3 separate regions of the Homo sapiens genome follow, and regions 1 and 3 are each linked to region 2. The links come from fine-mapping of genetic effects on gene expression. A gene starts in region 2. Each other region holds a variant in brackets. All regions are shown on one strand. Distances are from middle to middle.

The links. PIP is the estimated chance that this variant, and not a neighbour inherited with it, causes the effect.
Region 1: its variant is the best candidate, but not a certain one, in a credible set for the expression of ARFGEF2 in whole blood (INTERVAL, PIP 0.59).
Region 3: its variant is the best candidate, but not a certain one, in a credible set for the expression of ARFGEF2 in whole blood (INTERVAL, PIP 0.54).

What each region holds. Positions count from the first base shown.
Region 1 is chr20:49,034,506-49,042,688 of GRCh38, forward strand. It overlaps ARFGEF2 (ARF guanine nucleotide exchange factor 2), which reads left to right. Exons shown (of 39, transcript NM_006420.3): 39 at 1-2,188. CSE1L-DT (CSE1L divergent transcript) reads right to left here. Exons shown (of 2, transcript NR_110625.1): 2 at 5,958-6,105. It also overlaps the pseudogene SNAP23P1. Among named protein-coding and RNA genes, the nearest start is that of CSE1L-DT, 7.5 kb to the right of the region's middle. The variant A/G (reference allele first, on the strand shown) is at 5,156.
Region 2 is chr20:48,918,213-48,926,395 of GRCh38, forward strand. ARFGEF2 (ARF guanine nucleotide exchange factor 2) reads left to right here and starts at 3,499. Exons shown (of 39, transcript NM_006420.3): 1 at 3,499-3,798. The coding sequence starts at 3,678. RefSeq lists silencers at 3,260-3,339, 3,570-3,669, 3,710-3,759 and an enhancer at 4,130-4,209.
Region 3 is chr20:49,053,308-49,061,490 of GRCh38, forward strand. CSE1L (chromosome segregation 1 like) reads left to right here. Exons shown (of 25, transcript NM_001316.4): 2 at 5,146-5,241. The coding sequence starts at 5,157. Among named protein-coding and RNA genes, the nearest start is that of CSE1L, 11 kb to the left of the region's middle. The variant CTGTGTG/C (reference allele first, on the strand shown) is at 3,540.

The DNA.
Region 1 (8,183 bases), 120 kb after region 2:
ATGAGAAGGAGCACACACGCCTCATTCTCTGCCCTCACCCACTGCTCACCTAGAGCATCGCTGAGCGTTAGACAAAGTGTTACACAGAATGATTAAAACTTTCAGACTTCTACCTATGCTCTTTAGTCCTGTAAATTGGGTTGTATTGATGTCAACTCTGGTGCCTTAGAAGTTAGTAGTTTGGGAACCTATCTGTAAAATCAGATGTTTTTTCTTTGTAGAGAAGGATTTCTGGTGCTTTTGCTTACTAAGAGACCGATATTCTTAAGTTGTTTTCTTGTTTTAACAGCCTTGAGAAATGTTTGGTTTTGGCCAGCAGAATTCTTGTCTACTTTTTTCTTTCCCAAAAAGTGTTTTTTAATTTCTCTACCAAAGAAAAAATGAGCAGGTTTAGGTTTTTACATGACTTATATACATTAGATAAAAGGAGCTGTATAATTTAGCAGGAAGGGACTATGGGAGAATACTTTACTGTGAGTGGAAAATGTTAGCACATTTGACTGGTTTGCCCTGGAATCCACTGCACCTTTACACTGCACCATGAAACCTACACTCCCTGGTATCATAGCGCGTCATCACCTCAACAAGTCAGTCGTCTCCATTGATATTTGTACAAAAGGTATACATGGGGAACACGTGTTCATTCATTAAGTCCATCTTGCGTGCAGCTATATCCCTGATTGGTTATTTTTCCTTTCCTTCTGAGGTTCTCATGTCATTTTCTTCATCGGATGTGACTAAAATTTTTCTGGTGTCTTCTGCCCTCTCTTTAATTTTGCCTCTTGAGGGGTAGCAGATGTGTCAGTGCATTTTATTACTTGCTGAAACATTCAGGCTTACATTTCTTATTAGTTTAGTATTTTAAAAGATTTAATTTTCTGAATGAGGCATTTGAATTGTACCAGCAATGGACTTTTAAAAAATTGGATGTAAAACCATTCAGGGTGATTTTTCTTGTCAGTGGACAGTGACGAACAGAGATTTGAAATCCCTTACCTCCAATAATAAGCCATTCAGCCTAAATTCATTTTTATGAATAAATCTCTTCTTTCTCATGGTAAATGTGGCTTGTGCCACTCAAACACTAGTGAAAGGGTATGTACAACCGCAACATCAGGCCAGGACACCATTTATTTAACCAAGTAATGGAGGAGAGTGAAACATTTTCCAAGGCCTTATTTCTTTTTCAGAATGCTTTAAGTGTTGATTATATGTGCTGGGTCTCTAGAGAAGTTTTTATTTGTTACAATACTGCTGCTTTGAGCAATTTTGTTTCTCTTCATTGTCTGTTAGGGAAATCACCAGCTTTGGCATCTTAACAACAAACAGTGGATGGGTAATTTTTATTTCTGATACGCATCTTTAGAGTCAAATATATCTTTTCCCTGTACTCCTCATGTACAACCAAAGAACATACATTATGAAAATTGTATTATAATATCTGGAAACACAACATTTTCCTCTGGCAGGTGACTTTTGTACGAAATGAAAAAAAAAAAACCTGTATTTTTTTTGTTGTTCTTTTGTGATTAAGGATATACATTTAGTAGTCTTTGTTATTAAAGGAACCTGCTGATAAGTACAAGTGTGACCATCTCATTCAAATGTTTGTTGTTATGATGCAAATGGATATTGGTTTCAATAGAAGCTGGATCCTTAATACTGCATTTTCTGAATTCTGTTTTAATATTTGTGTTAAAGTAGACATAGCTGAACTCACATGGAATCCTGGAGTTTTGTTATCAGCAGCTTTGCAGTTTGGGAAACAAAGAAACCAAAGCTGAGTGTTTTAAAGAATGAACATATCTGGAAATCCTTGCTCTCAAAACAAAACAATATAATCTATCAAAGGTGTTTTACTCAGTGTTCTAATTTTTAAAAAATTTTATCTGCATATTTGCATCAAATATTTATGTGTAAAATGTATGTTTTACCTCCTTAAAATGCCTAAAAGTTAGTTAATAGTTACTTTGGTTTAACCTATACACAATGATTAAGTGCATTTAATATTGGTAATTTAATGAAAACCATTCCTTGCCCAATGGATGTATAAATTTTTGAAAGAATAAGCAGAATTATATAATATGAAATGCTATGTAAAGTTTTCTATGTAAAAATATTATGTATAATACTATTAAAATATCCCATGCTTTGATCAGGTGGTACATCAATAAAATTTTAAAAAGTATAGCTGTTTCTAATGTGTAGTAATTTAAAAAACATATATCAAGCCGTAGTTTTGGGTCAGTTTATGTCCCTCACCAATGAAAGGGGGAAAATTCTAGTCATGAGATTCTTTATATGCCTCTTGAATCTATTAACTTTGTTGTTGCTAGTTACAAAATGTAATTGTAAGGATCAAGTAGTGGCTATTGGTTCAGCCAGTACACATTGACAGCTTTGAAATATTCAGATGCTAATTTATTTATTTATTTTTGAGACAGGGTCTTGCCCTGTAGCCCAGGCTGAGAGCAGTGGTGCAATCACAGCTCACTGCAGCCTTAACCTTCTTGGTTCAAGTAATTCTCCCACCTCAGCTTCCTGATTAGCCGGAACTATAGGGCCAGTAGTGAGACACCTTGCCTGGCTAATTTTTGTATTTTTTTGTAGAGTTGGGGTTTCACCATGTTGCCCAGGCTGGTCTTGAACTCCTGGCCTCAGTGATCCTCCCACCTTGGCCTCCCAAAGTGCTGAAATTACAGGTGTGAGTACCACGCCAACTGAGATGCTAATTTTTAAGTCAATGTGACAAATACTAATCAGATTCCCATAACAGTGTTTAGGATCTACATAAATTTGATTCTGGACATAGTTCTATACACAAGGGTAAGAGACTGACAGTGTAATTCCCCAATAATTAAACTAAAGGTATAATTTTCCAAATCACTTTTAGTAACACAATAAATTCTAACTTTTTTTAAAAATAGAGATGGGGGTCTCACTATGTTGGCCAAATTGGTCTTCAGCTCCTGGGCTCAAGTGATCCTCCCACCTCAGCCTCCCAATGTATTGGGATTATAGGTGTAAGCCACTACATCCAGCCAATTCTAACTTTTTAAGTCTAGGGTCTGGCATGGTGGGAGGATTGCTAGAAGCCAGGAGTTTGAGACCAATCTGGGGAATGTAGTGAGACCCTATCTCTACAAAATAATAATAGCAAGTGTGGTGGCACACGCCTGTAGTCCCAGCTACCCAGGAGACTGGGGTGGGGAGGACTGCTTGAGCCCAGGAGGTCGAGGCTGCAGTGAGCTTTGTTTGTGCCACTGCACTTCAGCCTGGGTGACAGCCTGTCTCAAAAAAACAAAAACCAAAAAAACCTTCTGGCCACAAAGCAAAAAGTTGCATAGCCACGGTAAAGATTTAGTTGGTTATAAAGTTGTAGTTATTGCCACTTTAAGCTAATACTTCGTTTTGGAGCTTTTATACACAGTATTTTTGTTAGGGATCACAGTTCTGCAACCTCTGCTCCAAAAAGAATGAGTTTTCTTAAAGGGAGCTTAACTTCTGAAGTCTTAGTGATTCATAGGTGTGCATAGAATGTGTGATTCCACATCCCAGGTGGAAAGAAAGCAATCTTTCCACCTCAGCCTCCCAAAATGCTGGGATTACAGGCACGTGCCACCATGCCCAGCTAGGTTTTTGCTGAGGTTAACCTCTTATCTCTTGTCCCTCCCTCCACCACAAAAACCACAAACAAAAAACACTTCTACAGCTTCCTTCTTCTTGGCTGTCTTTGTCAATGTTTCCAATTTTTTTTTTTAAGAGACGTGATCTTGCTTTGTCACCCAGGCTGGGGTGAGTGGCCTCATTGCAGCTGACTGCAGCCTCAATTTCTCGTGCCCAAGCCATCCAAAGTTCTTTGTTCTATTATGTGGACAGACACGAAGGGCATGGCATTTGTTAAGTTCTGTTAAAGTCTTCTCTGCCTCTCTCATGTCTGTATTTTTGTGGCCCATGTCTTCTATGTGGTTGAGTTGTTCCCCTTGTTTATCCAGTATTGTGATGATCTTGATTCCTGCATCCTGAGACTCAATGGCTAAACCCAGGATTCTCCTTGTACTTTCTAGAGACTCATCAGCAACTTGGTGAACCCTCAGATGAATTCTTTTTGATTCAGGATCTTGCTGTGGCTCCCAGGCTGGAGTGCAGTGGCAGTGGCACCATCATAGCTTACTGCAGCCTCAAATTCTTGGGCTCAAGCAATCTTCCTGCCTCAGCCTCCCCAGTAGCTGGGACTACAGGCACACCTCACTATGCCCAGCTAATTTTTTTAAATTTTATTGTAGAGACAGGGTCTTGCTACGTTGCCCCAGCTGGTCTCAAACTCCTAGGCCCAAGTCATCTTCCCACCTCAGCCTCCTAAAGTGCTGGAATTTACAGGCATGAGCCACTGGACTTGGCCCTGAATTTCTTTTAATGACAGATTATCCATGATGAATCAAAACTATCAGGCATGGGCCAGGTGTGGTGGCTTACACCTGTAATCCCAGCACTTTGGGAGGCTGAGGCGGGCAGATCACTAGAGGTCAAGAGTTTGTGACCAGCCTGGCCAATGTGGCAAAACCCTGTCTCTACGAAAAATACAAAAATTAGCTGGGCATGGTGACACACACCTGTAGTCCCATAGTCCCAGCTACTTGGAAGGCTAAGGAACAAGAATCACTTGAACCTGGGAGGCCAAGGTTGCAGTGAGCTGAGATCACACCACTGCACTCTAGCCTGGGCCACAGAGCAAGATTCCTCAAAAAAAAAAAAAAAAAAAAAAAATTACTTGGCTAATTTTTGTATTTTTAGTAGAGACTGGCTTTCACCATGTTGGCCAGGCTGGTCTCAAACTCCTGACCTCAGGTGATTTGCCCGCCTCTGCCTCCCGAAGTGCTAGGATTACAGGCCTGAGACACTGCGCCCAGCCTCTGAAGACCCACTTCTACTGCACACCTGTCATAGGCAGAAAGCAGCCCTGGGCTCCTGCTGCCCTCTGAGAGAGTCCTGGAAGGTACTCTGTCCTTGGCCTTTGGGCCACATTCCATGGACTCCTGGTAAAGTCTCACTTCTCCCTTCCCTTCCACCAAAAGAGGAAAGAAGGAGAATTTAATGGCTGGGCACAGTGGCTCATGCCTATAATCCCAACACTTTGGGAGGCTAAGGCAGGAGG[A/G]TCACTTGAGGCCAGAAGTTTGAGACCAGCCTGGGAAACGGTGAGACCCCATCTGTCCCCCTCCCCATCTCCCCATCAATGAACTTTAGTACTTTCTCCTGCTAGGCTTTCCATATTGATCATGTTTTTGACTCTTGCTATTTCAACCATTCTTCAGCCATTAATTCGCACAATAACCCCCGTAAAGTAGGTACTATTATCATCATCACCAGCATCCCTCCTTTTTATAGAGGGGTACGGGCTCAGAGAGGTTGACAAACTTGACTTAGGACACTCAGAGGGATTTGAAGCCCTGCAGCCTGGCTCTAGAGCCCGCCTCCTAAACATTGCCCAGATCTAGCCTGGCACCGTGCCTCACACCTGTAACCCCAGCTCTCTGGGAGGCCAAGGCAGGCAGATTGCTTCAGCCCAGGAGTTCGAGACCAGCCTGGGCAACACAGTGAGACTTGTCTCTATTTATTTATTTTTTATTTATATATATATATTTTTTGAGATGGAGTCTGGCTCTGTCGCCCAGGCTGGAGTGCAGTAGTGCAATCTTGGCTCACTGCAATTTTGGCCTCCCAGGTTCAAGCAATTCTTGTGCCTCAGCCTCCTGAGTAGCTGGGACTACAGGTGCGTGTCACCGTGCCCAGGTAATTTTTGTAGTTTTAGTAGAGACGGGATTTCGCCATGTTGATCAGGCTGGTCTTGAACTCCTGACCTCAGGTCGTCTACCCACCTCGGCCTCCTAAAGTGCTGGGATTACGGGTGTGAGCCATCGCATTCGGCCTTGTCTCTATTTAAATAAATAAATAACTGCCCAGCTCCACTTCCAATTTATTTCTTCCACTGCAACCTTGATGCTCCCTTCAAGTCTTGCCCTGGAGAGGAATCTCACACAGGGGAAGGGCTGCTCTGATGTGCTGGAGAGCAGATGGACAGCGGTAGATAATATGGGGCCCTGGCTCCTGTGGACAGAGAACACACTTAGCACAGGACTAACATTTGCAGGCTCTAGGGCAGAAATACAAATGTCGGCTCCCATGCTCTGAGGGTCAACATTGAAAAACTATACGTAAAACTTTTGAATAAGACAGTCTATCTTCCTTCCTTTATAAATGTACCTTTGTAAAGATCTGGAAGGGCAGGTCAAAGATGGAATTCTCAGGCTCCTCAGAGCTCCACACCAGAAAGCAGCAGCACCGGGTGGCTGGCCCAAGACCAGCACCCTGCTCTCTCCACCTCAGGCTTCACCCTGCACCATAAGGCTTTGCATGTGTGCATGGAAGCCCATTCCTGTCCAAACTCCCTGCAAACCCCTTTCTGACCCAAGTCACCCTTCCAGCATGGGAGTGCTCACAAGCTGCTGTGCAGCCCACCCTCTGAAGAAGTGACCCAGGCAAGGGTATCCACAGGCCAGGGCCCTATGGGTTGGGAATTCCAGGGCCCTGTCCAACTGCAGTGTGGTCTCAAAGGGAGTGGCATGGGTTCTAGATGTGCACACCCATTCGGCTAACGGGCAGGAGGGAGCAGCTGGAGGAGGGCCAGGACGAAGCCCTCTAAAGCAAGGGCACGGCAAAGGTCTGCAGGCTTGCCCAGGTCTAAGGCAGGTCTAAAAATCCCACTTGAAGGGATGGAAAAAATATAATTTCCCATCAAGAAGCATGAAAAATACACTTCTAGGTCAGGCGTGGTGCCTCACACCTGTAATTCCAGCACTTTGGGAGGCGGAGGCAGGTGGATCACCTGAGCTCAGGAGTTCAAGACCAGCCTGACCAACATGGTGAAACCCCATCTCTACTAAAAGTACAAAAGTTAGCTGGGTGTGGTGGCACATGCCTGTAATCCCAGCTATTTGGGAGGCTGAGGCAGGAGAATCGCTTGAACCTGGGAGGCGGAGATTGCAGTGAGCCACTGTAATCCCAGCACTTTGGGAGGCCAAGGTGGGTGGAACACTTGAGCCCAGAGGTTTGAGACCAACCTGGGCAACACAGAGAGACCCAATCCCTACAAAAAAAAATTTAAATATATACATTTAAAAATTTTTAATTAAAAAAATATAAAATAAGGAAATAGAGGACATAATATATTACCTACAACTTATATCCTAATTAATAAAGGAGATTTCCCATTTTGTATGAGTAGATTTGTTTTTTTGAGATGGAGTCTCGCTCTGTTGCCCAGCTGGAGTGCAATGGTGCAATCTCAGCTCACTGCAACCTCTGCCTCCTGGGTTCAAGCAATTCTCCTGCCTCAGCCTCCCAAATAGCTGGGATTATAGGCACACAGTACCACGCCCGGCTAATTTTCATATTTTTAGTAGAGATGGGGTTTCACCATGTTGATCAGGCTAGTCTCAAACGTGTAGATTTTTATAACATATAAACATATATTTAAACAGAAATAAGCCAGGTGCAGTGGCTCACGCCTGTAATCCCAGCATTTTGGGAGGCCAAGGTGGGCAGATCACCTGAGGTCAGGTCAAGACCAGCCTGGCCAACATGGTGAAACCATCTCTACTAAAAATACAAAAATTAGCTGAGTGTGGTAGTGGGCGCCTGTAGTCCCAGCTACTTGGGAGGCTGAGGCAGGAGAATTGCTTGAACCTGGGAGGCGGAGGTTGTAGTAAGCCAAAATCGCGCCACTGTACTGTACAGCCTGGGCAACAGAGTGAGATTCCATCTCAAAAAAAAAAAAAAAAATTAAAGTGCCTCCATTTTAAAAAAGATAAGAAACAACAATCAGATACTTCTCAATGTTTAGCTGTTAACACTCTTCTGCATCTCAGTTGGGCTTTAAAAGCGAGATTGAGACATAAGACTTGTTCTTTCCCAGCATAACCAGATGTGTCCACGCCCTTCTGGATCCAAATAAAATGTAAAGTTATCTTCCTCAAGGAGCACACCATAGACAATGTGTCTTTTCAGAATGTCTTTCCTTACATTAGACAGATTGGGGTTTTTTTTGTTTTTGCGCGGGGGGACAGAATCTTGCTTTGTCGCCCAGGCTGGAGTGCAGTGGTGCGACCTCAGCTCACTGCAACCTC
Region 2 (8,183 bases):
GGAGGCCAAGGCGGGCAGATCACTTGAGGTCAGGAGTTGGAGACCAGCCTGGCCAACATAGTGAAACCTCGTCTCTACTAAAAATACAAATAAAATTAGCCAGGCGTGGTGGCGGGTGCCTGTAATCCCAGCTACTCAGGAGGCTGAGGCAGGAGAATCGCTTGAACCTGGGAGGCAGAGGTTGCAGTGAGTGGAGATCACACCACTGCACTTCAGCCTAGGCGACAGTGCGAGACTCCATCTCAAAACAAACAAACAAACAAACAAAAAAACTACAGCAAAAAACATTTTATATGTAAAGCAGATTTAGATTCTAGGCTCAGATCATTATCAATAAGTTTTTCATCTCCAGGAGTGTCTGGCCATGTGGCATACATTGAATTGTTTGTTACATAGGATTGTTCAGCTCTCTGCAGGATGTTATCTAGCATTCCTGTTCCCTCTATTACGACAACAGAAATATCCCCCCAACAAAATTTCAAAATGCGTCTGGGGGTGGTACTGCCTTCATGGAGAAGCACTGATTAAGAGGGACAGAAAAATGTAAGACAAGCCCTTGATGGGAACAAAAAGGAGCCCAGAGTGGCCAGAGTCCTGAAGAAAAGCAGGAAGGAGATGAGCTCAGAGAAAATGGCAGGGCCTCTATCACACCTTGTTGGCCACAGTATGATACTGAACTTGGACTCAATTCCAAGGGCAATAGGGAGCCTCTGTTGGATTTTCGGCAGGGGAGTGACATAGTCTGGCCTTGCTGTGTGTGTGTGTTGGGGGGAGTGGGGTGGGATCAAAACATGTTACTCAGCAGACTGCACTGTACTCTAGAGAATTTCATTCATTCATTCATTCATTCAACACATAAGGATTGAGGTGTGTCTCAGTGATCTATTGCTGTGTAACAAGCAAGACCCCAGAATGTAGTGGCATAAAGTAATGATTTTTTGTTTTCTGCTATTCTGTGGCTCAGCTGGGCAGTTTTTCTGCTGGTCTCACTAGTCACTTGTGCTGCTGTATTCAGCTGGTGGGTCGGCTGGGAGAGCTGCAATGACTGGGCTCCCTATCCACGTGCTCTTTCTTCTGGGGCTGCTACCATTTTGTTGTTATTATTGTTGTTGTTGTTTGAGACAGAGTCTTGCTCTGTCTCCCAGGCTGGAGGGCAGAGGGGCAGTCACGGCTCACTACAGCCTCCACCTCCTGGGCTCAAGCAATCTTCCCACCTCAGCCCTCCAAGTAGCTGGGACTACAGGCAGGCATCACTATTCCTGGATAATTTTTTAAATTTTTTGTAGCATCAGGGTCTTGATATGTTGCCCAGGCTGGTCTCGAACTCCTGGGCTCAAGTGATCCTCCTACTTCAGCCTCCCAGTGTTGGAATTACAGGCATGAGCCACTGACCTGCCCAGGGCTGCTTCTGAGTGTCATTCAGCATTCCCAGGCAGTAAAGGAAGAAGTGAGCCAGGGCTGTTGATGCTCTGGGACTTGTGCAGCCTCTTTTCTGTCACATTCTATTGGTCAAGACCAGCCACAAGGCTAGTCTAGGTTCAGGCTGGTGGAGAAACAAACTCTACCTCTTGCTGGGAGTGACTGCGAAATCGCATTACAAGCAGTGGAACTTGCAGAATTTAAGGCCATGAAATATTCAACGTGACTGTAGACCGGGCCCTGGGGATATGGCCTGCCCCTCTGCAACCGTGCTTTAGTGAGACAACAAATAGTCAACACGTACAAAAGCTCAGAAAGTGCTGTGGAAAACATCAGCTAGGGAGAGAGGGGGCTACTTGAGACAGGTCAGGGAAGGCTTCCCAGAGACGTCTGAGCTAAGACCCGAGCACTGGAGCATGCCTGCCTGGGATGTCTGTGCCTCTGAGGTTTCCAAGGAAGACAACTGTCTTTGCATAAGCCCATGGCTGCCCTTGGGGGAAGGGGCCCAGGGGACACCACTAATGGTTGCTGTGATAGCATCATTGTGGAATGGAGTGGAAGCTGCCTTGGGGCCAGAGTATCTGTCCCCCAGCACTCATTTGCAGGCTGTGTGACACTGGCCATCTGGGTTTCTTCCCCTGACTCCCAAAGCCCAGGTCCAGTTCACTGCACTGTGAGGGTTCACAGGTTTATAACAGGATAAACTACAGAGAGAGGTCAGTGCTTCCTGGTATACTATGCACAGCTGCGACACTCAATAAACAGAAGTTCACTGAACTGCAAGGTCACTGCTGCTGTGACAGGAGGGTCATATGGATGTGTGTATCTTGCCAGTGGCTGTGGTGAAACCCTGCTTGTGGAGAATAGACATAAACACACCTTCTCTCTCTCCCTCTCTGTCTTCCTTTCACCTCCCCTCTCCCTCCACCCCTTCCATTTCCTATTCTCCCAGCATGTTCTTTCCACTCTTCCTCACCTCCTTCCCCTTCACCTCCTTCCTACACCATTCCTTTTTCCATCTCTTTCCTGTTTTCCTAACTTGTTACTCTCATCTTTTTCTTTCTTTTCTGTTCTTCCTGACAGCTCCCCTTCCTACCTCCTCTCCCTTCACCCTTTCTCCTACTCTTTCCCCTCCTCTCATTTCTACCTCTCTTTCCTTTTCACTTCCCCTCTCCCTCCTGTCTTTCTCCTTTTTCTTTTACCTCTGTGCCTCCCTCTCACCTCTTCCCACACCACCTCATCTCCTCCATAACTAACTCACCTCCTTTTTGTTTGTTTGTTTTTTGAGACAGGGTCTCCTTCTGTGGCCCAGGCTGGAGTGCAGTGGTGCCATCACAGCTCACTGCGGCCTCAACCTCCGAGGCTCAAGCGATCCTCCCACCTCAGCCTCCCCAGTAGCTGGGACCACAAGCAGCGCCACCAGGCCCGGCTGTTTTACTTTTTATTTTGTAGAGAAAGGGTCTCCCTATGTTGCCCAGGCTGGTCTCGAACTCCTGGGCTCAAGCGATGCTCCCGCCTTGGCCTCCGGAAGCGCTGGGATTAGAGGCGTGAGCCGCCGCGCCGGGCCTCCCCCCTTCCCCTCCGCCGCCGCCTTCTCATCGCCCTTCCTCCTTCCTCCTGACGCCCCTTACTCCCGATCACTTCTCATTCATTCACCAGCTTCCAGTCCTCGCTCCCTCACCTCTTTTCTTTCCTACTCGCCTTCTCCTCCTGCCCCTTTATCATCTCTCCTTGTCACCGTTCTTTTTTGCCAATCCTCTCGTTCCCCTTCCTTTCCTCATCTCCTCTCTTACCCACGTCATCTCCATTCTCGTGCTCCCCTTCACCTCCCGTTACCTTGCGCTTCTCTCCTCTCATCTCCATCACCACCTCTCCCCGCTTTCGCCTTTCTTTAGCCCCCGCGTCCCCTATACCCTTCGCCCATGCCCACTCCCCTCCCCACCTTCTCTTCTTCCACCCTCCACCCTCGCCTTCTGTCTCTCGCCCACCTGACTCCGCTCCGCCCCCAGCCTTAGGCTCCGCCCCGCTGGGGGTCACGGGGCCGACGGACGCTAGGCGGCCGTAGCGGCCTCGCCAGTCACGTGGTCACGTGACGCGCTCCAACATGGCGGCGCCGTGGGGCCGAGGTGTCGCTTCCTGACGGGGCGGCGCGGACGGACGCGGCCGGTGCCGGCCGGGACGCCGGGCCCGCAGCCTAGCTCGCCATCTCGCTCACGCCGCCCGCCCGCGGGGCCGTCAGCCCCCGCCGGGCCGGGGCCATGCAGGAGAGCCAGACCAAGAGCATGTTCGTGTCCCGGGCCCTGGAGAAGATCCTAGCCGACAAGGAGGTGAAGCGGCCCCAGCACTCCCAGCTGCGCAGGGCCTGCCAGGTGGCGCTCGGTGGGTGAGCCGCTCCCGCCCTGCCCCGCGCTGGCCTCAGCACGTCGGCCGTTGCCCTATCCTACTCGGCCTTGGCCCGGCCTCCTGGCCTCCGCTTCCCCCCGATCCCGAATTCCACCCTTCCGGCCTCCTCCTCATTATACCCCCGGAGGAAGTGTTGCCCGGGCAGCTCGGGACTGGCCCAAGGTCACCTAGCAAGTTGGTGACAACCAGAGCTTGTTCCTCAGGGTTCCAGCTCAGGGCTTTTGCCACGATTCCTTGTCGCCCTGTTTCCTGGTTCCTCCCCTCACCACCTCCAAGTCCTAGAAACAGTAGCCCTTGCCCCAAGTTTTTTCGTTACCTGAGCTCTGCTGATTGGGGTTCCCCTAGGTGAACAGAGCATGTAGGAAGAGCCGTCCAACTGGTTTAGGGAAACCCCTGATTCTTGTTTTGGAAGTGCCCGTTGGAGAATGTTTTCCTTTGGTTTGGGGATCTCCCATAGCTCTTTCCCTCAAGGAAGGATTGTAGAAGGTGTTCTGGATCTCCCAGGCATTGTAGTGAGCAAGACATCTGCTTATTCCTAGCAGTCCACTAAAATACAAGGTCTTCAGCGCGAAGATACTTGTCTGACTTATTCATTGCTGTATCCCTTGCGCTTGCAACAGTGCCTGGCGCACAGTAGGTGCTCGATAAATATTTGCTGATTGAATGGACCCTCAGATTATGGAAAGAGGGAGAATTCTAACTAATAGTTAAAGGCTTGATAATTGATAGCAAAATCACTATCCTATCTTTCAGTTTTAATCATTTAACAAATATTTATCAAGTGCCCACTGCATACCAGGTACTGAGAATTCAGTGGGGAACAAGACGGACATGGTCCTTACCCCTATGGAGCTTATACTCGAATAGAGGAGACAAAATAATTAATTAAGAAAATAGGTGAGGTATTTTGGAATACTGATAAATACTATTTTGAAAATAAAACAGCAAGATGTGATAAAGAGGGCTTGAGGACTGCTTTCCATGGTCAGGAAAGTAATCTTTTCCAAGAGGAAAAGTAATCAGGTGGTCAGGAAAGTAATCTTTTCCAAGAGGGTGACACTTGAGCTGAATACTGAAAGGCAAGAACTATCCACCATATGGAGTTTCAGAAGAGAGTTCTTGGTGGGAGAATCCATGCATTTGACCAGAGCTGTTTTCAAGCTAATTCACTGCCCCAACGTCTTTGGTTTGGAATCTGTAAAGGCCTGTTTTTCCTAACAAAATGAGCAAATGGAAAGTTTGATTTTTAGTCACATAGTTTGAGATTGTTATCACCTTTCTCCTTTCATTTGCTACAAAGTATAGAGTAGTGTTCTTTTGGCATTTAGAAATAGGCTGGTGAACTTTGCACTTCCCTGGAAAGAAGGTCCCTGGCTTTCATCAGATTTTCAGAGGGCCCTGAGACTCCCTCAGGGGCCAACTATTGATGCAGAGGTGGTAGTCTAGATAATCTGGAAACAGTTGCTAGTCCGTGAAATTCAGGATCAGTGGAAGGAATTTACTGAGATGTAGATTTTTAAAGCTTTTCTCTTCCAATAACCAAGGCTGTTGGGTATTTTATCAGCAATGTGGGATAAGCACTGCAAAGCAGTTTGTTAGGCAAGAGCCTGGTATTTATAACTCCACGTTGAAATCTGCCTGGACTCTATCTTCTCGATATTGTTGTGGAGGTTTCAGAATAGTTATTTGGCAGAAGAGTTTTTATTTTTTCTTCAGAAAACTTCTTAACATAAAATTTTCACCAAAGTGTGCATCATATTATTGGAACCTACTTATAAAATTTTCATCTGGGTCATGAAGGGCCATTAACGCTGAGAATTTAATAGATATTTTCGGATCGTATCTTTGTTCAGAAGTTCAAGTTTTCCTAACACAAGTAGTGGAATGCATGTTTTCAGTTTTTAGTAGTGAATTGTAAAAAATGGCCTAGATAGGAAGTAATTTGACTACAGGTTATATGAATCACAAATTGGGGTTGTGCCAATGGCATAATAGGAACTGTCATAAGGGAACGTATGCATATTGTTAAGTGACCATCTTTTTTAAGAGAATAATTGTGTGTCATTGCTGTTAAATAGAAATGACTGCTTTTACTTAGAGTAGAACACATAGCAGAATGCCTGGTGATATTTCTCTCTGTCTCTCAAGGCCCAGTCTTGTGTCCAGTAGTCCCATTTAAGAAGAGAAATTTGGGGCCAGGTGCGGTGGCTCACGCCTGTAATCCCAGCACTTTAGGAGGCTGAGGCAGGCAGATCACGAGGTCAGGAGATCGAAACCATCCTGGCTAACACGGTGAAACCCCGCCTCTACTAAAAATAACAAAAAAAATTAGCTGGGCGCTGTGGCGGGCACCTGTAGTCCCACCTACTCGGGAGGCTGAGGCAGGAGAATGGCGTGAACCCAGGAGGTGGAGCTTGCAGTGAGCTGAGATTGCGCCACTGCACTCCAGCCTGGGCGACAAAACAAGACTCTGTCTCAAAAAAAAAAAAAAAAAAAAAGGCTGAAACGAGCCAGTGTATAAGGAGCAGCTATGTGGTATTTTAGAGATTACCATGTATAGATTGTTGTTAATTGTGATAAGAGGAACTGTAAATGACGGCTCAAAGTTGAAATGCTTGGATGATAGAGAGCATTTACAGGAAACAGCTTCTGTGATATGATTCCACCAGCTGTAGCATATTAGGGGAGAGGATCAGGGCTGCAGGGACTGTATAGTGTAGATGTTAGCTAGGAGTGTATTCTTTGGGACCCTAGACTTCTGTGTTCAAACCTCCTGCCTTCCACTTGCTACGTTTGTGATCTTGGACAAGTTACTTCCTTATAGGATTATTGTAAAGATTAAGTTAATTGACATGTGCAAAAAACTTGGCATGTAGTAGGTGCTCAGTAAATGCTTGCTATTACTTTTTTATTATTATTATTTTAAGCTGTGACAAACCACAGCAGCTGTAATTACTCTGGTTTGATGTTCTTAACCTTAGTTCCTCGTTCAGGAATGACTTACTGCTCTATTTGGTTTGTAGATGCAGTAAATAAGAATGTAATTACGTGATTGAAAGGCTGTGTTGGAGTATTAACTTCCTAAACTCAATGAAGACAGGGGTTGTCCTTTGTAAAAATTGTGATAATCATGATGGAGCAGATTTGGAGTAATCTCAATGATTCGTCCGCACTATACACCAAAAGCATAAATAGGGACTGCCCAAGTAGGGGATAGTGCCCTTCCAACCTTTATCTGGAGAAATCAAGACAGCCTGTGAGAGTATTCATCGCCCCAAGGATACTGTTGCTCTTTACCTTGTTATGAAACTTTGATATATATTAATAATCTTCAACCTTTCAGCCCTCTGTTGGAGAATATAATTACATTCTTAAACCTCCCTTTTATAATTGTCTTATTTAAGACTCATCTTCTCCCATCATGTATCTTTAAGTTATGTTTCTGCTCTTAAACTATATGAAGTTTGGAGGCTTAATAGGATAATCTATTTAAAATTCGATATGGAAAAATTTATCTATGGCTGGGCACTGTGGTTCATGCCTGTAATTCCAGCGCTTTAGGAGGCCAAGGTGGGCAGATTGCATGAGCCCAGGAGTTTGAGACCAGCCTGTGCAACATGGCAAAACCCCATCTCTAAAAAAATATATAAAAATTAGCTGGGTGTGGTAGTGCATGCCTGTAGTCCCGGCTACTTGGGAGGCTGAGGTGGGAGGATGACTTGAACCTAGGAAATGGAGGTTGCAGTGAGTTGAGATCATGCCATTGCACTCCAGCCGAGACAGCAGGGTGAGACCCTCACACAAAAGTGCTAAGTAATGGCTAGGTGCTCTATAATTACTAGTTGTCATTATTCTCAGCCATTATCAAGAAAATTTAAAAAGAATAGTAAACATACGTATTTTCATATGAAATTGAATGACTTTTAAAGATCACATGTTGTATTATATCTCCTATGTACTAAGCATTTCTGAGTTCCAGGCACAGTAAAGTGGGCTTTTCATGCAATTTAGTTCTCACTATTATCATCATTCCCACTGAGGCCCAGAGAAGTTAAGTTGGCCAGGGTAACTCAGTAAGTGATGGAACCAGGGTATAAACACAGGCAATCTGGCTCCATAGTCCAAGATCTTAACTATTACTACCATGTTTTCTTGCTTCTCCATATGAAAGTTGTTATGTTTGAAATACTCAGTAGAGTTTTTAAAACAATCAGTATACCGCAGTGGAGTTTCAGGAGACTGTATTTTCTATAGCTGAATTTTGAGATATGTTTGAAAGCCTTGAGTCAAAAAGATCACAGCTCTTTTCTTCAGGTTTTTACTACATATATACTAGGTTTACTTTAATTAGGGGCTAATGG
Region 3 (8,183 bases), 140 kb after region 2:
CACTGATGTTAATGATTTAACTTGACCACAGCAAACTAACTTTTTTTTTTTTTTTTTTTTTTTTTTTTGAGACTGCGTTTCTCTCTTGTTGCCCAGGCTGGAGTGCAATGGCGCAATCTCGCCTCATTGCAACCTTTGCCTCCCAGGTTCAAGCAATTCTCCTGCCTCAGCCTCCCAAGTAGCTGGGATTACAGGCATGTGCTACCAGGCATGGCTAATTTTTAGTAGAGACGGGGTTTCACCATGTTGGCCAGGCTGGTCTCAAACTCTTGACCTCAGGTGATCTGCCCCTCTCAGCCTCCCAGAGTGCTGGGATTATAGGTGTGAGCCACCACACCTGGCCCAAACTTTCATGATTTCATAACTGATCCACCATTTCAATACAGAAAAAAGGAATAGGAAAATAAATGGATTAAATCATTGCTTTCCAAAGTGTGTTCTATTGAAAAGGAGTTCTATAGCCAAATAATGGGAGAGACTGGGCAATCCTCCCACCTTAGCCTCCCAAGTAGCTAGGACTACAGGGCCACACCACCACGCCCGGCTAATTTTTTGTATTTTTAGTAGAGATGGGGTTTTGCCATGTTGCCCAGGCAGGTCTTGAACTCCTGGGCTCAAGCGATCGTCTGCCTCAGCCTCCCACCAGTGGAGACTCTGGATTAATTGATGTGAACCAGTAACTTTGTGAGTTTAAAGTGCTTTGTATTGTGAATCTCCAAAGTGGGGCAGGATATAATGTGTAGCATTTTCCAAACTTGTGATATAAAAAACCATAAAGGGTATAGCCTCTCAATAGATTGTATGTGTGGTTTAATGGGACTTGATTTTCACACCTATAGAGTGGAACACCTGGATTAGAGGGAGTGATTAGGTAGGTGGTGGGATCTACTCAGTCAGAACATTAGCTTCCTGTGATAAACACATTTTCTAATTAAGGGGAAGGACTGCAGCATGTAGAATACAGATAATTCTCTTTAGAAGGTTGGGGTTTCTGGCTGTTGGGGAGTGCCCTGCATAAGCACAGCATTAGATAATATTTTCTTATTTTCTGGCTCCCCACCGCTCAGTTGTCCTCTGGCTGCCCTCTTTTCACATCAGCCTTTCTATTGTGTTGTGAGTGCTTTCACTCTTGGTCAGCCGTCTGTCATTTCCACCTAAGAGGCAGCCTTGGGTAATAGAAAGAGGGTAGACCTACGGAGTTGGACTGATTTAAATCTGATCTTTATTTATTAACCATATATAGTTAATATATGTCAACCTGAGTGCCCTTCTTTGTGTGTAAAATCATTGTGTGGAATAAATGATATGAAGCCTATGAAAACATCTAGCATCGTGTGCCTGGTTCATACATGTGACACTTCCCCCATTCTGCAAACCATTACCAGCCCAAAGGTCCTCTACTCCACTTTCATTACATTTTTACCCACTTAAGAAAACCTTCATGACTTCCCCATACATTAAATCATGGCACTCTTCAGCCAAGTATGGAGGAACCTATATGATCTGGTCTTGATCTCCTAGCCCACTATTCTCTCTTCCCATCTCTGTTACTTTGCTCTCACAATTCATTTTGGCAGATGCGCCCTCATCCTACTTTGCCTATTCAGATACACATATTTTTCAAGGTTCAGCTCAAGGCTCAGGCTCTGGGAAACTCTTGGATGGCCACATAACCCCGTGACTCCCTTCTTAATTTTCTAACGTTTAAGGTGCTGTCTTTGTGATTCATTTGGCACTTCAGAGGACAGATGTTTCAGAATTTGGGATTTTTTTTGGATGCATGTACTGTGGATTATACAACATCCCCAGTGGGGCTTGGGGTAGCACCCTGTAATCAAACGTATTGATATTTCTTTAGTGAAACAAATTTGCATACTAAGTGAGATAAATCTATGTTGATAGCCTCAGGCAGTTCAGGCTGGTTTTGCTGCCAAGTGAGTTTGCCACAAACTTGTTAAAAAACAAACTTTTAAGTTTTTTTATTTTTGGATTTCATCACTTTAGTAAAGGGTATATAGGCCTGTACTTGGCATTTCAGTTGTGTCTTGTCTTCTGAACTATTACAGAAGCTCCTTCTAGGACAGGAACTTGATTGCATATTGTCATAGGCATTTTAAAAATAAATGGGTCCCGGTATGGTGGGTCATGCCTGTAATCCCAGTGTTTTGGGATGCCGAGGCAGGAAAATTGCTTGAGGTCAGGAGTTCAAGACCAGCCTGCGCAATATGGTGAAACCCCATCTCTACAAAAAATACAAAAATTAGCCAGGCATGGTTGATTGCGCCTGTAGTCCCAGCTACTCAAGAGGCTGAGGTGGGAGGTTGGGGCTTGAGCCCTGGAGGTTGAGGCTGTGGTGAGCTATGATCATGCCCCTGCAGTCCAACCTGGGCCACAGAGCAAGACTCTGTCTGAAAAAATAATAAAATTTTTTAAATTCCTTACTGTAAATGTATAATAGATATGTGATTGTAAGATTAGAAAAGTATGAAGAGAATAAAACTCTCCTTATATCTATCACCGAGATGTTATCACTGTTCTACATTTTGGAGTGTGTTTTTTGTTTTCTTCTATATGTGAAGTTTTTTTTCATAATTTGAATTATGATATCCTTGAACTTTTTCCACTGACCTTTTTTACATTTTACAAAAATTGTGTGTTTAGTTTTTTTCTTCTTTTTCATAGAAGCCTCTGGTTAATTTGGTGCATGATTTCCCTGAAAGGGCTCCACTTTCCCATCTACATGTGGCTATATATCTAAAAGCTGCCTAATGGAATCTAAGCATAAGTGGAGTTTTCTAAAATCGCTTTTTTTTTTTTTGGAGACAAAGTCTCGCTCTTTCTGAGGCTGGAGTGCAGTGGCACAATCTTGGTTCACTGCAGCTTCTGCCTCCAGGTTCAAGCGATTCTCCTGCCTCAGCCACCCAAGTAACTGGGATTACAGGTGCATGCCACCATGCCCGGCTGATTTTGTATTTTTAGTAGAGACGGGATTCACCATGCTGGCCAGGCTGGTCTCAAACTCCTGACCTCAGGTGATCCACCCCCCTCAGCCTCCCAAAGTGCTGGGATTACAGGCGTGAGCAACCGCGCCCAGCCTAAAATAGCTTTATTGAAGTACAATTTACATACTATAAGATTTATCCATTTTAAGTGAACTGTTTGGGAAATGTTAGTAAATTTATGTAGATTATGCATGTGTCACCACAGTCCAATTTTAGAACACTCTGTCACCCCCAAAAAGTTCCCTCAGTTTGCACCTAATTTTATCGTCTCACCAACAAGTTGGAGACCATAAAGCTCAATTGATAAGATTCCCAGGATTTGTGATCTGTTGGTAATCATGCACATCTGACACTTGTACTCTGTGTATGTGCTGTTTCTGTGTGTTTTTTCATTTTCCTTTTAATTGAGTGGGTTCAGACTCCTTTTTTTCCCATTTTTAATGGACAAAATTGTATATATTTGTGGTATGCATGTTTTGAAATATGTATACATTGTATAATGGCTAAATCAAGCTAATTAACATATTACTTCACATG[CTGTGTG/C]TGTGTGTGTGTGTGTGTGTGTGTGTGTGTGTGTGGTGAAAGCACTTAAAATATACCCAGTAATTTTCAAGTGTACAATACATTATTATAGTCACCTTGTTGTACAATAAATCTCTTGAACTGTGTATTTCTTAGCCTATGTTGTTAGTAGTTAAATCGACGTAGGCCATTTAGTTAGCTTAAAATTTGTGGGCTGGGCACGGTGGCTCACGCCTGTAATCCTAGCACACTGGGAGGCCAAGGCAGGAGGATCACTTGAGTCCAGGAGTTTGAGACCAGCTTGGGCAACATTGTGAGACCCTGTCTCTACAAAATTTTTTTTTTAATTTGTCATCTGTTAGATGTGAAGTTTTTTGGTCAGTTATAAGCATATTATGTGATTTAGTTTTGTTTAAGCTTTAAATATGAAAACTTCTAGAATCATAATCTTAGCTGTCATCTTCTGAACTCTAGAATTTATCTCCCTAGATGCAAATTCTTAGCACTTTGTAGTATTTGCGATTACATGTTGTACATGAAGGAATTTCTTGTTTCTTTAATCTCAGAACTTTATGTGGGATATTTATTTGCTGTTTAAAATTTTAATTTCTCGTTGTGGGGCCTTTTTTTTTTTTTTTTTTAAGACAGGTCTTGCTCCATCACCCAAGTTGGAGTGCAGTGGCACCATCTCAGCTCACTGCAACCTCTGCCCCCAGGCTCAAGACATCTTCCCACCTCAGCCTTCCGAGTAGCTGGGACTGAAGGCACCCACTACCATGCCTGGCTAATTTTTTGGGTTGGTTGGTTGGTTTGTTTTGAGACGGAGTTTTGCTCTTATCGCCCAGGCTGCAGTGCTATGGTGCGATCTCAGCTCACTGAAACCTTTGCCTCCCGGGTTCAAGCGATTCTCCTGCCTCAGCCTCCCAAGTAGCTGAGATTACAGGCTCCTGCCACCATGTCCAGCTAATTTTTGTATTTTTAGTAGAGACGGGATTTTACCATGTTGACCAGGCTGGTCTCAAATTCTTGACCTCAGGTGATCCGCCTGCCTCAGCCTCCCAAAGTGCTGGGATTACAGGCATGAGCCACCATGCCCGGCTTCAATTTTTTTGTAGTTTTGGTAGAGATGGGGTCTCACCCTGTTGACAGGCTGGTCTCTTAACTCCTGAGCTCAAGCAGTCCACCCACCTCAGCCTCCCAAAGTGTCGGGATTTACAGGCCTGAGCCACTGCCCGGGCTCCTTATGGGGCTTCTTTAATAAGTTCCTCCAGTGATTTTTTTTTTCTTAACCTTTATTAGCCCTTTCCCATAGCATTAAATCATATAAACTTCTTGGTGACTTCGAGCAGTCCTTCAGCTTTTTTTTCTATGACTATCTTTTTGAAATTTTGGGATTTTTTTTCATCTCCCTTATCACAAAATTGTCTCACTATTGTTTTTGGGGGAAAAGGCACATCTCATTTGCTGGACTCTTGTCTCAGAGTCAGGTTTACTGCCCATATAAAAAACAACAGATGGATGACTTTCAGAGAGAATAACCCATAATATAAACGGATTTCTTTAAATGTAAATCACTTTTTCCGTAAGTGACCAGTTATCCAAACCTTATTTTATATTTTAGATCCTATAGCAATGGAACTCAGCGATGCAAATCTGCAAACACTAACAGAATATTTAAAGAAAACACTTGATCCTGATCCTGCCATCCGACGTCCAGGTAAAGAAAATAAACGTTTTTTGGTTGATTAATTCCTTCAGGACAGGTGAGAGAAACCTATGTATTATCTGCCTCCTTATAAATATATTTTAAAAAATTCATACTTGGGTTCTCAAGCGTAGTTTATAAGTGTTACAGCTGCTATACCATGGTGTGTTGTTTCTTTTTTGAGTAAAATAGCTTTTATTTGGCATCTTCTGGGATTAAAAAGTACTAGTTTTCGGATAAAAAGTACTGACATGTTTAGAATGCTTTGTCTTTGACCTTTTCCAAAATACCCACTTAAAACATGCCTGCTTTAGGCCGGATGCGGTGGCTCACACCTGTAATCCCAGCACTTTGGGAGGCTGAGGCAGGCGGATCACGAGGTCAGGAGATGGAGACCATCCTGGCTAACACGGTGAAACCCCGTCTCTACTAAAAGTACAAAAAATTAGCCGGGCGTGGTGGCGGGTGCCTGTGGTCCCAGCTACTCAGGAGGCTGAGTCAGGAGAATGGCGTGAACCCCGGAGGCAGAGCTTGCAGTGAGCCGAGATTGCGCCACTGCACTCCAGCCTGGGCGACAGAGCAAGACTCCGTCTCAAAAAAAAAAAAAAGCCTGCTTTAGAGATAAAATAATTAGGGCATAGAAAGGAGAGTAATTGCCTAAAAAGTGATTAAGTGAATGAAGCCAAGTAATCAGTTACTGTCTCTTAATTTTAATTTTCTATTGGGTTTGATTTAACTAATATATTTTAAGACCTAGAGCTTTTTTTTTCCTTCCTGAATCTGACCAGATTCCATTAAAAACGTAGAATTAAAATATTGAACTCAGGTGTTCACAGGACTCAGCTGTTAAGTTAAATGAGGGAGATAGGCCAAGTGGAGACTGGTAATATCAGGAGAATACATGCCCTGATTAAGTGGCAAGTACTTTTTGGAACTAGCTAATTTTGGGGATTCAGACTAGTTTTGCAAGATCAGATTTCCAGTTTTGCTTGAAAAATAAGGATATTTATATGAAGTGCCCTCATTTTTAAATGTTAGCAAGTAACTTCAAAAGATTTTGGGGCCGGGTGCGGTGGCTCACGCTTGTAATCCCAGCACTTTGGGAGGCCGAGGTGGGCAGATCACGAGGGCAGGAGATCGAGACCATCGTGGCTAATATGGTGAAACCCCTTCTCTACTAAAAAATACAAAAACTTAGCTGGGTGTGGTGGCACACACCTGTAGTCCCAGCTGCTCAAGAGGCTGAGGCAGGAGAATTGCTTGAACCTGGGAGGTGGAGGTTGCAGTGAGTTGAGATTGCGCCACTGCACTCCAGCCTGGGTGACAGAGCGAGACGTAGTCCCAAAAAAAAAAATATTTTGAAACACAGCCAGGGTTGGTGGTCACGCCTTTAATCCCAGTAATTTGGGAGGCCAAGGCAGGAAGATCCCTTGAGTCCAGGAGTTCGAGACCAGCCTGGGCAACAAAGCAAGACCCTGTCTCTACAAAAAATTTAAAAATTAGCCAAGTGTGGTGATGTGTGCCTGTATTCCTAGCAACTGGGGAGGCTGAGACAAAAGCTTCACTTATACCCAAGAGGTCGGAGCTGCAGTGAGTTATGATCATGTCAGTGCACTCTAGCCTGGGTGACAGAGGGAAATCTTGTCTTAAAAAAAAAAAAAAAAAGGCCAGGTGCATTTGCTCACGCCTGTAATCCCAGCATTTTGGGAAGCCAAGGCAGGCGGATCATGAGGTCAAGAGATCTAGACCATCCTGGCCAATGTGGTGAAACCCTGTCTCTACTAAAAATACAAAAATTAGCTGGGCGTGGTGGTGCACGGCTGTAGTCCCAGATACTTGGGAGGCTGAGGCAGGAGAATTGCTTGAATCCAGGAAGCGGAGGTTGCAGTTAACCGAGGCCACTGCACTCCAGCCTGGTGACAGAGCAAGACTCCGTCTCAAAAGAAAAAAAAAAATTGGACAGGCACATTTGCTCACGCCTGTAATCCCAGCACTTTGGGAAGCCCAGGAGGGCAGATCACCTGAGGTCAGGAGTTTGAGACCAGCCTGGCCAACATGGTGAAACCCTGTCTTTACTAAAAATACAAACATTAGCCAGGCATGGTAGCATGTGCCTGTAACCCCAGCTACTTGGGAGGCTGAGGTGCAAGAATCGCTTGAACCCAGGAGGTGAAGGTTCCAGTGAGCCAAGATTGCCCAACTGCACTCCAGCCTAGGTGACAGAGTGAGACTTTGTCTCAAAAAAAAAAAAAATTGAAATACAGTGCAAGCCAAACTACTTCTGGGCCAGATATATCTTGTGAGCAGTCAGTTATTGATCCTTGATATGGGCCATATTAAAATGCTCTTGACCTGTTTCTTCAAAACTTACCAATGTGCATGCTCATAGAGGATGTTGGAAGGGTTCCATGAGGAAGAGAATGTGTGTTATATATTATGTATGATGACTAGAATCATGAACATGTTAATGCATCTATCCTCTTCTAGAAAAGTCTTTGTGATTTTTGAGAGGAAAAATTAGTTTATTAGTGTATAAAGAAGTAATGTGTTCCTGGATAAAGGGAAGTTAATGGCTCTAATCTTTAATCTTCTTAGACTTTCAAAGAAAGCTGTTGCCAACACTATTAAAAATTTTTTTTTTTTTTTTTTTTTTGGAGACGGAGTCTCCCTCTGTCGCCCAGGCTAGAGTGCAGTGGCGCCATCTTGGCTCACTGCAAGCTCCGCCTCCCGGGTCCACGCCATTCTCCTGCCTCAGCCTCCTGAGTAGCTGGGACTACAGGCGCCCGCCACCATGCCTACCTAATTATTTGTATTTTTAGTAGAGACAGGGTTTCACCGTGTTAGCCAGGATGGTCTCCATCTCCTGACCTCGTGATCCACCCGCCTCAGCCTCCCAAAGTGCTGGGATTACAGGCATGAGCCACCGTGCCCGGTGGAAAAATTATTATTATTAT